Regions from separate parts of the Homo sapiens genome. Here all the other regions are reported to be linked to region 3. The links are microRNA targets in miRTarBase. Many come from high-throughput screens and were not tested one by one. Region 3 holds a microRNA gene; each other region holds the end of a gene's coding sequence.

Evidence for each region. The annotated mature microRNA hsa-miR-6507-5p reads GAAGAAUAGGAGGGACUUUGU and lies in region 3 at 1,314-1,334, opposite strand. An mRNA with a match to its seed (bases 2 to 7 or 8) in the 3' UTR can be bound and repressed. Matches are read on the target gene's strand: a 7mer-m8 pairs with bases 2 to 8, a 7mer-A1 pairs with bases 2 to 7 and ends in A, and an 8mer does both.
Region 1: the mRNA of EFCAB14 is a reported target of hsa-miR-6507-5p. Seed matches in the 3' UTR shown: 7mer-A1 at 2,404-2,410.
Region 2: the mRNA of NLGN4X is a reported target of hsa-miR-6507-5p. Seed matches in the 3' UTR shown: 7mer-A1 at 1,494-1,500.
Region 4: the mRNA of ARL6IP1 is a reported target of hsa-miR-6507-5p. Seed matches in the 3' UTR shown: 7mer-A1 at 1,420-1,426 and 7mer-A1 at 1,511-1,517.
Region 5: the mRNA of MOB1A is a reported target of hsa-miR-6507-5p. Seed matches in the 3' UTR shown: 7mer-m8 at 2,473-2,479, 7mer-m8 at 2,322-2,328, 7mer-m8 at 1,658-1,664 and 7mer-A1 at 1,156-1,162.

Annotation. Positions count from the first base shown.
Region 1 is chr1:46,675,677-46,678,844 of GRCh38, reverse strand. It overlaps EFCAB14 (EF-hand calcium binding domain 14), which reads left to right. Exons shown (of 11, transcript NM_014774.3): 11 at 209-3,168. The coding sequence ends at 384. The region is part of intron 1 of EFCAB14-AS1 (EFCAB14 antisense RNA 1); the gene reads right to left. Among named protein-coding and RNA genes, the nearest start is that of EFCAB14-AS1, 3.2 kb to the right of the region's middle.
Region 2 is chrX:5,890,170-5,893,335 of GRCh38, reverse strand. NLGN4X (neuroligin 4 X-linked) reads left to right here. Exons shown (of 6, transcript NM_181332.3): 6 at 1-3,166. The coding sequence ends at 519. Among named protein-coding and RNA genes, the nearest start is that of LINC03070, 170 kb to the right of the region's middle.
Region 3 is chr10:98,923,230-98,926,397 of GRCh38, forward strand. It overlaps MIR6507 (microRNA 6507), which reads right to left and starts at 1,339; the gene lies at 1,270-1,339. All of the region lies in intron 3 of HPSE2 (heparanase 2 (inactive)), which reads right to left.
Region 4 is chr16:18,790,527-18,793,526 of GRCh38, reverse strand. ARL6IP1 (ARL6 interacting reticulophagy regulator 1) reads left to right here. Exons shown (of 6, transcript NM_015161.3): 6 at 157-1,858. The coding sequence ends at 275. Among named protein-coding and RNA genes, the nearest start is that of RPS15A, 1.7 kb to the right of the region's middle. RefSeq lists an enhancer at 2,956-3,000.
Region 5 is chr2:74,153,796-74,156,963 of GRCh38, forward strand. It overlaps MOB1A (MOB kinase activator 1A), which reads right to left. Exons shown (of 6, transcript NM_018221.5): 6 at 1-2,850. The coding sequence ends at 2,773. Among named protein-coding and RNA genes, the nearest start is that of BOLA3-DT, 7.4 kb to the left of the region's middle.

The DNA.
Region 1 (3,168 bases), not on the chromosome of region 3:
AGCCTTTTTTTTTTTTTTTTTTTTAATATATTTTTAAGGGATCAAAAATTAGTCTTCCTGATTTAGTGAAATCCTAAACTTTACCATTTGGAAACAAAATTTGCGGAGTAGCTTTTCTTTTAGTGTTTTAAATTCAGTTGAGACTACTTTTAACTAAATTTAGCTGTATGTTTAGACGTATACATTTTTTGTAATTCATTTTTGACAGATCTTCAGGATTTATTCCGCAAGACTGGCCAGGACGTGGATGGGAAGCTGACCTACCAGGAAATCTGGACCTCCCTAGGTTCTGCTATGCCAGAACCAGAGAGCTTGAGAGCATTTGATTCCGATGGAGATGGAAGATACTCATTCCTGGAGCTAAGGGTAGCTTTAGGTATCTAGCTTCATCAGGCATATTTTAGAAATGGACTGCCTAATATCTATTTACCTAACAACAAAACAACCCTTACTTACCCATCAGTCCTCTAGTCCTCCAAACTACTGTAGCAGATACTTTGCCACCTTTTAACTTGTTTGAAGAAGCTATATAAAAGTTATTTTTTTAAAGAAGAAGACCATTTTACTTATGATGTTCAGAAATCTATGATTTCCTACAACCAGTAAGATCTTACATTTTAAAATTGCCAGAAAAAAAATTAAAGCCCTCTTTTTTTCTCTTTCCTTTTTTTGAGGGGAGGAGACCTTATCTTTTAAAGCTGGGAAATGTATATAGAGAGAGAATAAGCCACTTTTATATTTCACTTAAATTTGCCTTAAATTAGCTGCACTTTATAGAGACTCAGAAAATGTCTTTTCTTTAAAAGATAGGCCTTTTCTGTTTGTAAATATTTAAATGAAAGAAAGCATTGTGCATATTGTGTGGAAAGTAGGAAGAATGGTTTTGAACAGGATATGAACAAATGACTTATTAAAAATTGCTGATCTGGTGTAGGTGGCAGCTGAAACTACATCCATGTCTCCATAAGGTATCCCTCAAAGGCCCAGGCGCTGCCAGGGGGTTTGTCCTGGTAGCTGGAGGAACCGATTTCAGGGAGTAGACACTGGAGACAATACTGACTCCAGGCATGGCTCATGGAAGTAGGATTCTGGTTCTTTGTTCCTATTCCCTCAGCTAATCCCAACCTGGGAATCAGAGAAGTCTTGGGGATTTTTCTCATTTTTAGTACTATTTCAGGGTTTATGAGCATAAAAAGTTATCCATTGGGGAGCTCCATTTTCCCTGCTGAGTGAGCTAGATTGCCTTCCCCACCCACCCACTTAAGTCTGTCTTAAAGCCGTAGCTGGCTCCCACCACCAGTACCATCTCCATTTGAATGGCAGGGCTAAATTCCCCCAGCCATTATCTCACACTGACCACCCAGAGCTTTAGAAGAGAGCTGTGCTTCTAATTTTGACCCAGAAAACCATACCCCTTGAGATTTTACCTAGAGGCTAACCAAGAGCCTAATATGTTTCTCTGGGGGATGACTAAAGCCAAAAAGGCTGTGAGATGAAACATGTGAAATAATATTCAGTTTCCTTACCATTACCAGCTCAGAAGTAGCTAGAGGCTTTCTACCCAAAGGATGCCAAAGTATAGCAGGGCAGGCCTGGAGCTAGGGCCTTCACATGGTGGTAGCAAGTTTTTCAAATCTAATACAATCAAGTACAATACTTCCTTTAAATGCTTCTGTGGACCTGGCATGAAAGATCCCTAGATTGAAAGGAATAATACCTCCATGTCTCCTGTATGTTGAGTCTAGAATTGCTGTGTTGTTCTTAGAAGCAGTCTTTGGGCAACAACTTGAAAGGGGAAAAAAAAACTACAAAAACTTAACTTTGGTATAGGCCAAGTCAGGGAGAAAGTAGAGAAAGCTGTCATGCCACAGACTTCTTTAGTGGAGATCATTTCCTTTTTAACTTTGTTCAGGTTGCCCTTCACCATGGATACAGTCCGGTACCCTTAAACATTTAAGGGCTGTTTTTTTTTTCTTTACATGATGTTCAGCTTGGTATTAACCAAACTTAAATTTTTTTTCCAGAAGTATTAAAATTTAGTTAAAGCAAGATGAAGTCTTTTCCCATGAATGTGTCCCCTTATCTCATTATAGCTTATGCTCAGTTTCACTTTCTTGGAAAGGTTAAAACAAATTAGCCTGGCACTTTAGGTAACTTGAAAATAACTCTCACCCTTCTGACTGCCTTCCATCCACTCTCACCCCACACCTTTTTTTAATATATATACACCCTTACAGATTTTCTAACAACCAAATAAAATTCTAGCAATAAATTGAATTATACTGCTATATTTGTATATACTGTACCATAAATAGTATGTCTGTACCTGGAAGGTATTTTTTTGAGAACTGATTTATATGAAATATACTTGAGGGTAATGTAGCTTGTCCTTTTTAGTTTCAAATTCTTATTCATAGGCAGATACTTTGAAGACACCTTAACTCTTTGTTGTGTGTATTTTCCCTTGCATCAGATAACTATACATGGAGAAATCCATTTTGTTTTTTGGTTTATCTTCTGTTCTTCCTACCTTGTGCTTGTCTGACTAGTATCACCCCTGAGCCAGTATACAGTACCATCCTCTCCCCCTACCAAGTTTGGCAGAGGTGTTTATACTGCATTCTCAGATCTATGAATATTTTTGTCATCCTGCCTGAGAAAGTACATCTTCCAGGCAAAAGTAGGGTATCTTGAACTCCTTTCTTCTGAGTTGAGCAGACTCACTGGCTTAAGCATCCCATAAGCCTATTATTTAGTGTGAATTTGGGACTTTTATTTGTATGTTGTCTTAACTTACTAAGCCTGTGACTTGTATTTAGCTGTAGTCAAGCCTCACCAGCCATATCTCATCTCTGAGAGGAAGACTGGATAGTGAGTTTGGTTTTGGTTTTGGTTTTAAACCCTTTTACCTTTTCAGTCTGGCAGCTCCTACTGCTGCTTTCCTAAGTTACTCAAAGCACTGCTTCTTGGTCCTTGTTTTCTTTTGCCTTGTACTATCTTGTATAATGTTTACTAAAAGAGCCTCCCCATAAATCAGAGAGGCAAAAAGGTAGCATATAAAAAGAAGAACCAAAAGAAGAGAAAACCTGACTTCTAGATGACTGTGGTGTCATCTAAAAGGCAGAGGTGCCTGACCCTCAGGAATGTGTATGATGCAACAGAGCTGAA
Region 2 (3,166 bases), not on the chromosome of region 3:
AACAATCCCAAACACTCTAAGGACCCTCACAAAACAGGGCCTGAGGACACAACTGTCCTCATTGAAACCAAACGAGATTATTCCACCGAATTAAGTGTCACCATTGCCGTCGGGGCGTCGCTCCTCTTCCTCAACATCTTAGCTTTTGCGGCGCTGTACTACAAAAAGGACAAGAGGCGCCATGAGACTCACAGGCGCCCCAGTCCCCAGAGAAACACCACAAATGATATCGCTCACATCCAGAACGAAGAGATCATGTCTCTGCAGATGAAGCAGCTGGAACACGATCACGAGTGTGAGTCGCTGCAGGCACACGACACACTGAGGCTCACCTGCCCGCCAGACTACACCCTCACGCTGCGCCGGTCGCCAGATGACATCCCACTTATGACGCCAAACACCATCACCATGATTCCAAACACACTGACGGGGATGCAGCCTTTGCACACTTTTAACACCTTCAGTGGAGGACAAAACAGTACAAATTTACCCCACGGACATTCCACCACTAGAGTATAGCTTTGCCCTATTTCCCTTCCTATCCCTCTGCCCTACCCGCTCAGCAACATAGAAGAGGGAAGGAAAGAGAGAAGGAAAGAGAGAGAGAAAGAAAGTCTCCAGACCAGGAATGTTTTTGTCCCACTGACTTAAGACAAAAATGCAAAAAGGCAGTCATCCCATCCCGGCAGACCCTTATCGTTGGTGTTTTCCAGTATTACAAGATCAACTTCTGACCCTGTGAAATGTGAGAAGTACACATTTCTGTTAAAATAACTGCTTTAAGATCTCTACCACTCCAATCGATGTTTAGTGTGATAGGACATCACCATTTCAAGGCCCCGGGTGTTTCCAACGTCATGGAAGCAGCTGACACTTCTGAAACTCAGCCAAGGACACTTGATATTTTTTAATTACAATGGAAGTTTAAACATTTCTTTCTGTGCCACACAATGGATGGCTCTCCTTAAGTGAAGAAAGAGTCAATGAGATTTTGCCCAGCACATGGAGCTGTAATCCAGAGAGAAGGAAACGTAGAAATTTATTATTAAAAGAATGGACTGTGCAGCGAAATCTGTACGGTTCTGTGCAAAGAGGTGTTTTGCCAGCCTGAACTATATTTAAGAGACTTTGTAAAAAAGAAAAATGTATATAGCTGTGAGTTTAAACAAAAACCACAAACAGACAAACAAGAAAAAAAGCTTTTATTGGTGTTTTCACTTTGAAAGAGCTTTTAGCAAGGTTGTGCTTTTCATTGTGCTCTGTACGTATATAAATATATATATATATACACACACACACACACATTAGTCATATCACCTCTGTTTCCTCCCCAACAAAAGAGGCTTTTCTTCTTAATTACTTGTGGTAAACAAAGACATGGGATTTTCTTACATGAGATTCTCATTTGTAGGAGGATGTGATGTCCCACAGAAGACCCAGACGGTCTGTGTGGCCTATTTCCCCCGTCAGGTTGCACAGGTGCATGCAAGAGCATTCTTAGGAGACCACTGTTTTGAAAAACTTTTGACTTGTACGTGTTAGCCTTCATGAAATTGCAGTACAGAGATGGGTCCCCAAAGTGGAGTGTATTTACAGCTTGTTAAATTAGAGACATGCACACACAAAGAATCAGTAGGGAGAAACAAAAATACAAGTCCCGTTCTGTAGCTCTGGCCCTTTGAATATGTTTAGGAAGAGTTGCTTCCCATTTCAGGGCCCTGCCAAAAAAAGAAGAAAGCTTGCCTTTGGTGGGGCTATGCCCCTTGGAGTAAATACGGCTCTGTGTTCCCTAGCAGCTGCGGGAGGGTTTGGCCGATGAAGTACCTGCTCAGCTTAGCTAATCAGATTGAAGGAAGACATGTGTCTTTCCTTTTTGTTTAAGCACTCGGTCCCTTATTTATCAGTAAGCAGGTTTTTAAAAATCTTTTATATCATTTATGGGATCAAACATATGATTGTCTGAAAACATCACTTTTTGTGGATTTGTGTATCCGGTCACCAAACGGTGAATATTATAGAAGAATGGGGGAAGAAAGGATAGAATATTAAAACTGCTTTGCATGGGTTTTCTGGGAAATTAGGATAACTTCACTGAGAAGACATTGAATGGAAATTATTCACCCATTTTAAATTGGTGACCTAGGGATCAGAGATTTGTCTTTCCAACAGCTTGTCATTTTTTCATTTCTCTTCTCATTTTTCAGGAAAGTTTTGAGTGTTATAAGGTGGAAGGAAACATAGTAGCAATGGATACTTTTTTGAAAAATTATTGCATTACCAAGAAACAGTAGCCAAAGATATTTGAAGATCATGTTCCTCGGCTCCATTGTGGGTTATTCTAGAAATCCAGTCTTAAATCTCTCCGCTAAAGTGGACATTCCCCATAAAAATTGTCCAGCTGCCTGGCTCTTTTGCAATAACAACCTTTGATTACTGAATCCCTACACTCAAACTATAGTGATATATCAGTGTTTGAGAGTGACCTCTAGAAAAAAGAAAAGTGTTTTTAGAAATGCGTACAAGTCACCCCCAAATCCTATTGCTTATCTTGGGTTAAATTTGAGAGTGATTCTCTGTATATAAATATGTGAAATATTATTATCTCAACTTAGCACACGTGAAGCAACATTTCTTTCCTACAGAGAGGTGTCATGGTAAGATTTCATTCCGAATTCATTGTTTCATAGAGCTATGATCAGGCCATTTCTGCAAGCAATGTATGACCCCACCTGAGCAACCACAAATAGGCTCTCTGTGAAACTACAAAGGAAGTTATGTGTGGCATCCATGTTGGTTTCGTCTGTCTGTAATGTGAATTCCAGTATTTGTTTAGTATTTCCAGTTGTCTCCTGCTAGCAATATGTACAGTAACGCGTCAGGCTTGTGACATTTGAATAAGGAAAAACAGAGTTCCTGTTAAGTGAATAACTTTAGCTTTTACAGGGGATTATGATCAAAAGTGATTTTAGTACATCTTAAATGATATCTTATTTCTACATGGAAAGAAGTTATAGAATCTTCATAGAGTTCTATGAGAAAAAATATACTTGCTATCTATAAAAAAGAGAAAAAAGAAAAAAAATGAGAAAAAAGTAAGAAAAAAAAAAATCCTGTCCTAGGCTTTTACTCTTGATCTTCAAAGGCACGCAGGGTTTAATGGTTCCTT
Region 3 (3,168 bases):
GACCTGTAAGGTTTGCACTGAAAAGTCTGCTGCCAGACCTATTGGAGCTCCACTGTGTGTTGTTTCTTTTCTCTTGCTGCTTTTAGAATCTTTCTTTATCCTTGGCCACTGGGAGTTTGATTATTAAATGCCTTGGGGTAGTCTTCTTTAGGTTAAATCTGCCTGGTGTTCTATAACTTCTTCTACTTGAATGTTGATATCTTTCTCTAGGTTTGGGAAATTCTCTGATACTATCCCTTTGAATAAACTTTCTATCCCTATCTCTTTCTCTACCTCCTCTTTAAAGCCAATAACTCTTAGATTTGTCCTTTTCAGGCTACTTTCTAAATCTTGTAGGCATGCTTCATTCTTTTTTATTCTTTTTCCCTTTTGTCTCCTCTGACTGTGTATTTTCAAATAGCCTGTCTCTAGGCTCACTAATTCTTTCTTCTGCTTGATCAATTCTGCTATTAAGAGACTCTGATAAATTCTTCAGCATGTCAACTACAGTTTTCAATTCTAGAATTTCTGATTGATTCTATTTAATTATTTCAATCTCTTTGTTAAATTTACCTGATAAAATATTGAATTCCTTCTCTGTGTTATCTTAAGTTTCTTTGAGTTTCGTCAAAACAGCTATTTTGAATTCTCTGTCTGAAACGTCATATATATCTATCTCTCTGGGATTGATCCCTGGTACCTCATTTAGTTCATTTGGTGAAGTAATGTTTTCCTGAATGATGTTGGCACTTGTAGAAGTTCTTTGGCATCTGGGCATTAAAGAGTTATGTATTTATTGTGGTCTTCACAGTCTGGGCTTATTTGTGCCTGTCTTTCTTGGGAAGGTTTTCTAGGTATTCAAAGGGACTTGGGCCCCAAGCCCAATAATACGGTGGGTTTTGTACACTCATAGAGGTACTGCTGTGGTGGTTGTGGGTAAGATCCAGAAGAATGCTCTGGATTACCAGGCAGAAACCCTTGTTCTTTTCCCTTACTTTCCCCAAAACACATGGAGTCTCTCTCTCTCTGTGCCGAACCACCTGGAACTGGGGGGTGTAGTGATGCAATCACCCCTGTGGCCACCACCACTGGGACTGTGCTGGGTCAGACCCAAAGCCAGCACAGCAATGGGCCTTGCCCAAGGCCCTTCCCGTCAGGGTAGTGAGTTCTTGTAGGCTCCAGGTGTGTCCAGAGATGCTGTCTGGGAGCCAGAAGTTGGAGTCAAAAACCTTAGAAACTTATGTGATGTTCTATTCTACGGAAGCTAAGTTGAGGGAAAGGAAGTAAAGTGGAGGGAAAAATAGGAAGGACTTTGCATGGTACTGAACCACAATACAAAGTCCCTCCTATTCTTCCCTCCCCTTTCCACAAGATGTAAGACAAAGTACCCTTTAACTTTGATCTCCTCTCCTTAAACGGAAAGAAACAGTCACTTCCATTGCTACAAGCTGCAATCCTGGGTTTGGGGGAGGGATGACTTCTCTTTACTCTCCCATAGCTGTGCCAGCTGGTGTCTCCCTAGGTCATGTTCCACTCCTAGTTCACTGGCTTGAAGCCCAGCCTAGCACTAGGAGTTGCCTAGGAATTGCAGTCTTTGTGTCCTAGACTGTCTTTCAAGTTTACCTAGGACCCCAGAGCACTTTAGCCCTAAGTGGTGAGGTTTGCACAGAAACTCAAGTTTGGACCACTGGGATGGGTGACCCCCCTCTGGCTAGGGCTGGTCCAGATGCTCCCATTGTGCACAGGCAATGGCTGAGCTCAATACAGCTTTATTCTCCACTGTAACAGGGCAGCACTGAGTTCAATGTAAAGTCGCCCAGCAGCTGTGCTCTCCCTCCCCAAAGTGCTCAAGTTCTCTCTCTGCACTGCATGGCCACTGCTAGGGGATGGAGGTGAGGTGGTGTCAGTGATTCTAAAGTATCTCTTCTGCCCTCCTCAATGCCTCTGTCGTTAAATCCAAGTACTGTGAATATGACGTTAAATCCAAGTACTGTGATTGCACACTTGATTGTTGGTTTTTGTGATGGGGCTTTTCTGTGTACAGATAGTTGTTAAGATTTGGTGTTCAAGCCAGAGGGACAAACAGTGAAGGCTTCTATCCCAACCATCTTGCTCCACCTCCCTAGATCTTATTTAAACCTTTTATTTTAATTGGCTTTTTTTTTTTTGACACTGCTCTGGCAGGGTATAAGTGAGGGCACTGCTTTGTTTCTGCCAGGTGGATGTCAAAGTCCAGGTTGCCCATTCAGCCTTCATTCACACCAAAGGGAGGCTCCTCATTATTGCTGAGCAGGTGGGTAAGTTCCACATCTCCAGAGTCTCAACTAATACTGCAGTGAAGTGGGAGGGTGTTCCCTCAATATCAACCAATGGGGATGAAGTGCAGGCTCTCTACTTGGACACCATCCTGGCAAGGATGTTGCAGGAGCACATTAGAGTTTCATGAGGGTAAGTCCAGGCTCCCTACTCAGCCTTTGTTTGTGTGAGAAATAGGACACAAATTTTTTATGACATTTGGCTAGGGTGGAGTGGTTATTGTGTAAAACCTTTCTGTCTTGCTAGATTGGTCCTTTATTGTTCTCCTTGGCTAGAGAAAACTGGCTTTTGTTGGGGTCTTTTGTGTTTGTATTCATTGAGATTTCCAGGTTTCCAGCTTCTTCAGCGCCAAGTTTGGGATATTAAAGACAAGAAGAAAACCCAGGGAACTCACCATCATGTTGTTCCTTGGGTTCTTGGCTGACTTCTTTTCAACCTCTGAGTCTTCTTACATGTTTTTTATATATAATATTTAGAGTTTTTAGTTACCCTTAATAGGAGGAATAGGGGAAAGTATATTTACTCTGTCTTTTTGGCAGTAGAAGTAGGTGTCATTGCCTTTTAAAATACTGAATATACATTCTTTATTATCTATATCCCCCTGGTAGAAAGTGAACCTCAAAAGGGCATGCTTTTTGTATGGCCATAGTAACTTATTGAATGAATTTATAAAGCCACAAATGCGTGCTATTGGAAAATACATCATTTTTAAGTTTTATTTTTTAAATTGGTGCTGAACCAGTGGGAGGAGGTCTGAAGGTCAATAGGAATGAAGGAAAGGTCTACATAAGAATTACAAGTAGGAGACAAAATTAATATTAAATATAACCAGATGGTAGTGAAACAGAATTTACAGAGCTCAACTGAGGGAAG
Region 4 (3,000 bases), not on the chromosome of region 3:
CTGGGAGGCGGAGGTTGCGGTGAGCCAAGATTGCGCCATTGCACTCCAGCCTGGGCAACAAAAGTGAAACTTTGTCTCAAAAAAAAAAAAAAAAAGTAATAACCTTTAGCAGGTTAATTGCTGCCTCCTTAATGTTGGGTTTTTTTTTATTTTAAGTGACTTCCTTACTATTGCTTCCTGGACTAAACCAACATGGAATCATTTTGAAGTACATTGGAATGGCCAAGAGGGAGATAAACAAACTTCTCAAACAAAAAGAAAAGAAAAACGAATGATTCATCTGCTTTAATCAGTGTGATTAATGCAGCACCCATTGCCCCGGGAACCGTTTCTGCTGTACTATCTGGATACTAAAATGTTACGGAAGTAGCTCTTTGTTCTCCCTCACTCTGCCCTTAGTTAATAGAAATTCAGACTCGCCAAGTAAGGCTTCGTGCATAGTGTCTTCATGTCGCGTATAGTTGAGCGCGTTCTTAGCAGTTGGCTTCATGGACAACTCATTAGTGTTTTGACTTTTCTTACCCAGCGTTAATTGAATTCTTGCTTTTAGACAACTTCCTTTTTGTAGTGGTGAACCTTGCCCTTTAGTACAGTTCAAGTGAATCTGGATAATTGTTCATCTTTGCTTTAGCTTAGATACCATGTAGTGGTCTGTGGCTACAGGAAGCTGGTTCTGTCTGCTTCCACAGTCTGCTTAAAAAACTGTCTGACTTCGTGAATATAGAGACCAAGTTTACCACTTCTGATGAAGAGACCAATTAAGATTCATTCCTCATTCTGTTTCTTTCCAGTGGGAGAAGAGTCCCCATGAAATAAGATGAAACTGATTCCATGCACTAGTACATGTAGGCTTCTCCCTTGTGCAAAGCTTAGCAATTTGTAGGAAACTTTGATCTTTTTGTCCAAGAAAAGGAATGTCTGACAGGCTTAAGCTTTCGTCCCCTTGCACTTAGACTCGAAGTTAGTAAATCCTTAAAGGCTTTTTAATAGCAGACTTCCAAAAGATTGCATTTAGGATTTCTAGCATGCTTTTAATTTCAGATTTTCAGCTGACATTAGCTATAGTATACAGTAGGTTAAGACTCATGTCTATGACTTTCACTCTAAGACTGGCAAAAGGACAGCAGTCTTCTATGTTTAGTCAATATTCATTTCAGTAGAAGATAATCTTATCTAATTTTTGAGACCAGAATAAGCCTTTTAAGGTAAACCTCAAAATTATCATTTTATGGTAATACTGACCATTTTAGTCCCCTAGGTTTGACATGGGAGATAGTGACTACACTGGTGTCTGACTTTTTTCCTAGAGATTTCTCCCTGAAAAATACAAGGGCTGTTGGTGAGAGCAGACTTGAGGTGATGATAGTTGGCCTCTGGTCTACAAAGATTTCATAACTCCTTGGAAAGCTTCTTATAATCATTCTTAACTTCTTGGTAGCTAGAAATTTAGAGTAGTTGAAATCTTTAGGAATGAACTTCTGAGGGCCAAAAAATGTGACTGACGGGAACAATTCTTAAACTGATTAACTAGCTGTAATATAGTTTTGTGAATTTATTGCACTGATGTTGTACCTTGTGGTATATCTGTCCCTATTAAATAAGTGTTGTTTTCTCCTCTTTAATATTGCTGTGAACAGTGGTGCCCATTGTAGCATATGTTTGATTTTTTTTTATTATTTCATAAGAAAACTACGTTAATTTTACCTTACTTTCATTGTAAATAAGCCTGTCTTCCTATCTGGATTTTTTGTGTGCATACATATTCTACTGATTAACTACTTTTGCAGTTTTAATCCTGTATTATTTCTTCTACTTTGTTTTGTGTAAAAGGGGAAAAAATAAAAAAAGCTGGAATCTTCATGTCTCACTTTCTTTATAACTTAGCCAATATAATATTTATGATTGGATTTATGAATCTGATTAATGAAGTACCCTGTGTGGTCCTTAGATGTCTATAAGGTACCCTACCTGTAATCCCACCACTTTGGGAGACCTGGGCAGGAGGTTCACTGGAGTCCATGAGTTTGAGGTTGCATTGAGCTGAGTGTACCCCTGCACTCTAGCCTGGGCAACAGAGCAGGACCCTGTCTAGGAAAAATTTTAAAAAAGAACAAAAATAAAAGGTTTAAGTTTTATTTAGCAAATATCCAGGTACCATGCTAGAGGGAAGAGGAAATGCAACGAATGAGCAGGGGCATTGACGTGTGAGAGAGGACGAAGCTGGAAGAACCGGCAGGGACAGAACTGGCTAAATGGTGCCTGTGTGGGCACCTCGTACCCCAGGGCCTTGCTAGCGTCTGGTACATGGGTGCTCAGTAAACAACTGTTGGGTGACTTTTGTCTGAACTTAACTTTTTAATTAAAAAAAAATTTTTAGCCGGGTGTGGTGGCTCACGCCTGTAATCCCAACACTTTGGGAGGCCGAGGTGGGCAGATCACTTGATGTCAGGGGTTTGAGACGAGCCTGGCCAACATGGTGAAACCCCGTCTCTACTAAAAATACAAAAATTAGCCGGGTGTGATGGCGGGCGCCTGTAATCCCAGGTACTCTGGAGGCTGGGGCAGGAGAACCGCTTGAACCCGGGAGGCGGAGGCTGCAGTGCGCCAAGATCGCGCCACTGGACTCCAGCCTGGGCGACAGAGCGAGACTCCTTATCAAAAGTAAACTAAAATAAAAATTAAGGCCCGCGCGGTGGCTCCCGCCTGTAATCCCAGCACTTTCGGAGGCCGAGGCGGGCGGATCGCAAGGTCAGGAGATCAAGAACATCTTCGCCAACTTGGGGAAACCTCGTCTCTACTAAAAATACAAAAATTAGCCGGGCGTGGTGGCGCATCTCTGTAGTTCCAGCTACTCAGGAGGCTGAGGCAGGAGAATCACTTGAACCCGGGAGGCGCAGGTTGCAGTGAGCCGAGATCACGCCACTGCACTCCAGTCTGGGCTACAAGAGCGAAACTGTCTCAAAAAAAAAAAAAAAATGTAGACGAACCTCCAACGAACGG
Region 5 (3,168 bases), not on the chromosome of region 3:
GGAAGGGAGTGAGTGTTATGGAACAGGCAAACCTTGGGCATGGGGAGATAAAAGTGAGAAGAGTCAAAAAGATTGATTTCTATAGGCCGGGCACGGTGGCTCATGCCTGTAATCCCAACACTTTGGGAGGCTGAGGCGGGCGGATTGCGAGGTAAGGAGATGGAGACCATCCTGGCTAACACGGTGAAACCCCATCTCTACTAAAAATACAAAAAATTAGCCAGGCATGACTAAAAATAGAAAAAATTAGCTGGGCGTGGTGGCGGGCACCTGTAGTTCCAGCTACTCAGGAGAGGCTGGGGCAGGAGAATGGCATGAACCTGGGAGGCAGAGCTTGCAGTGAGCCGAGATCCCACCACTGTACTCCAGCCTGGGTGACAGAGTGAGACTCTGTCTCAAAAAAAAAAAAAAAAAAGATTGATTTCGTCAAACTGTTATCAAAGGTTGGCCCTCTAGCCAACTCAGGAAGGCGCCATCCTCTTCCCATTATCTCCCCTTCCTCCAATTCTCCTCCTCCCCTTGGCTCCCTAGCCTTGGAGGTAAACACTAATATTTCAGTGCACTGTTGGTTAAGCCAGATTGGCTTGGGAACCTGGTAATGTTTTTATTTTTATTTTAAAAAAGGACAGTCTTGAGTCTCAAAATACCAACACATCTCTGATTTATGTCCCATTTATAAGCTGCCTTTACTACTGTCCTGACATGTGATCGTCTTTCATTTGCTTTGGAGCTTAGTGGTGAAGAGAGGGAACATTTCCATAACTGAAAATAAATGGAGAAAAGTGGTAACTCTTTTGTTTGAGAATATTTGAAATACTAGAAATAATGAGGAAAGTACAAGCCTAGCTGAGAAACTAGTTTCATCACTTGTGGACTTAAAAAAGTAAAGCTAACAGGGTTTAAAGTTGAGAGGCAGTTCACATCCTAAGTGATACCTAGAAACCTGCTTTCTTGTTCGCAAATGATCAACATGAACATACAGAATGGCTGACATTTGGACCTTTGGATAAGCTTAAAACATGGATTGTGGAATGTCTAATAGAGGGCTTTTCTCTCTTTTTTTTAATAATGACTGTCCCACACTTTAATTCCTCAATGATATGTGGATGCTAACTAAATCAGATGAAATGTTTTCTTTAAAATTCTGTATATATTTAAGAATTTCTAGGAAATGATTATTTAAAATGGAGTTTCTAAGTAATTATTTTCTTTATAGTTTAGTGGAGTAAGAAAAATAAATCTAAAAAAAAACATCAAATCTAACCTTTATCAAAGCCATCGAGGAGGTTGGTAAAATACTTTGCAAAAATCACAGCTCTGAACCACATAGAATGCTGATGAACTTAAAGCTTTGCCAGTTTGGCAAGTCTTCCAGTATAATACTTGTTGTGCCTCAGTACATTTTAAATAGACAGCTAGAGTTTACTAAATCCTAGGAATCAAATAAAAAATAAATGTTTTCTTCACTGAAGGGGAAGGCTTTTATATCCCAATAGAAATAGAGGAATTTCAAGTTTTGATACAAAAACAATTAAAACAAGATAAAACCCAAGTGGAAGCTCAGTCCATCTTTTGAATATTAACAAAATGAGGATTTTTTTAAAACTTATTTCTCCCATTTTGTTTCCTTTAAACACATACACTCACTCACTCTCTCAAGAATAGGTAGCACACCAAAACTTTATCTGTGTTATAAGATGTGTACACCTTCATGGTTTATTGTGGTTTTCCTTAAGTTTTATCCTTATTAGGATGAAGTTCATGCATTTCTACACTACTCTTAACTAAGGCTCAAGAGACAATAAAAACATAGAAGTAATTTTTTAATAAAAGGAAATAAAATAATCAAGTACTCTGAGTATTTTCCTCCATTCTCTTATCCAGAATTTTAAGGCCTCTGAAAAATAATGAAATAATAAAAATAGTGGTTTTGAGATCTAAATTTATTAATATTTTGGATTCCTTTTCTCAGCCAAAAGCTACTATCTGAATTAAGCTTTTCAGTTTAAAAGCCTGGAAGACCATCCTTAGAAGACATTAAAAAATTACTTCTGATACACACACTCCTAATAATTTAGATAGATATGAAAACAATCTCAAATAAAGATCAAAAAATAAAGTCCCTGTAAAAATAACTTTGGTTGCTCCCACCCACACGTCATATGATGATTTAAACTGCAATCATGAATTTTGAAAAAATAGACGTATCTTATCTATAAAAACACTACCATACAAACTTGAAACTAAAATGTTATCTGAAGTGACACAGATGTTCTAAATCTCAAGGATACTGAAAAATACATTTTTTATTCGTAAAATAAAAGAATAAAACCAATCTGATTGTGTTATTAGGAAATTTGTTCTGGAAACTTATTCATAAATTATTGATGGAAATTCTTAATGTCCATTGTGCTGTCACCTAAAACAGATTCAATCATTTTCTTGTAAAGAAATGACTGAGTAAATGAGTAAAAGAATAATAAGTAAATTTATAAGCTACAGGTTAACCATCACATATTACAACCAAGTATGACTATGTGATAACAACAAGAGTGGTCACACAGTACTTAAGATTTGGCTGTGTCCTTAAGGTCTTACTCGGAAACTATCACACCAACCTACCTTTGGGATAATTTTATCAGTAGACACAGGCAATGGGTATCTTTTTATCCTGTTTTCTTAAAGTTTGTATCACTAGTCTATAACAGATAGCAATGAGATAGTTCTAGCAATAGATGAAGCAAGGGGGTAACTGTGTTCTAGAAGAAACATTTATCTGTCTTTTGATCCAAGTTTCTCTATTAATTCTTGAAGAGGTGCCAGCTCACGCCTATCAATCAGATTAAACTCCTAAAAAGAGAAGAAAAATAACAATTAAAAATGGATCTAAAACTGAAACTCTGTAAATGTCTTTTGGAGAAGGGATTCCCAACTCTAGTTTTCTGAAGTCCAAAAGAATGATGAAATAACCTCTGTGAACATTTTAAAGTAGGCATTTATTCTTTTTCTTTTTTTTTTCTTTTTTGTACAGATGTGGTCTATGTTGCCAAGGCTGGTACTGAACTTTGGCCTCAAGTGATCTGCCCACCTTGGCATCCCAAATCCCAAAGTGCTAGGATTACAGGGGTAAGCCACCACGTCCAGCCCTCTCTTTTTAAAAATATAGGT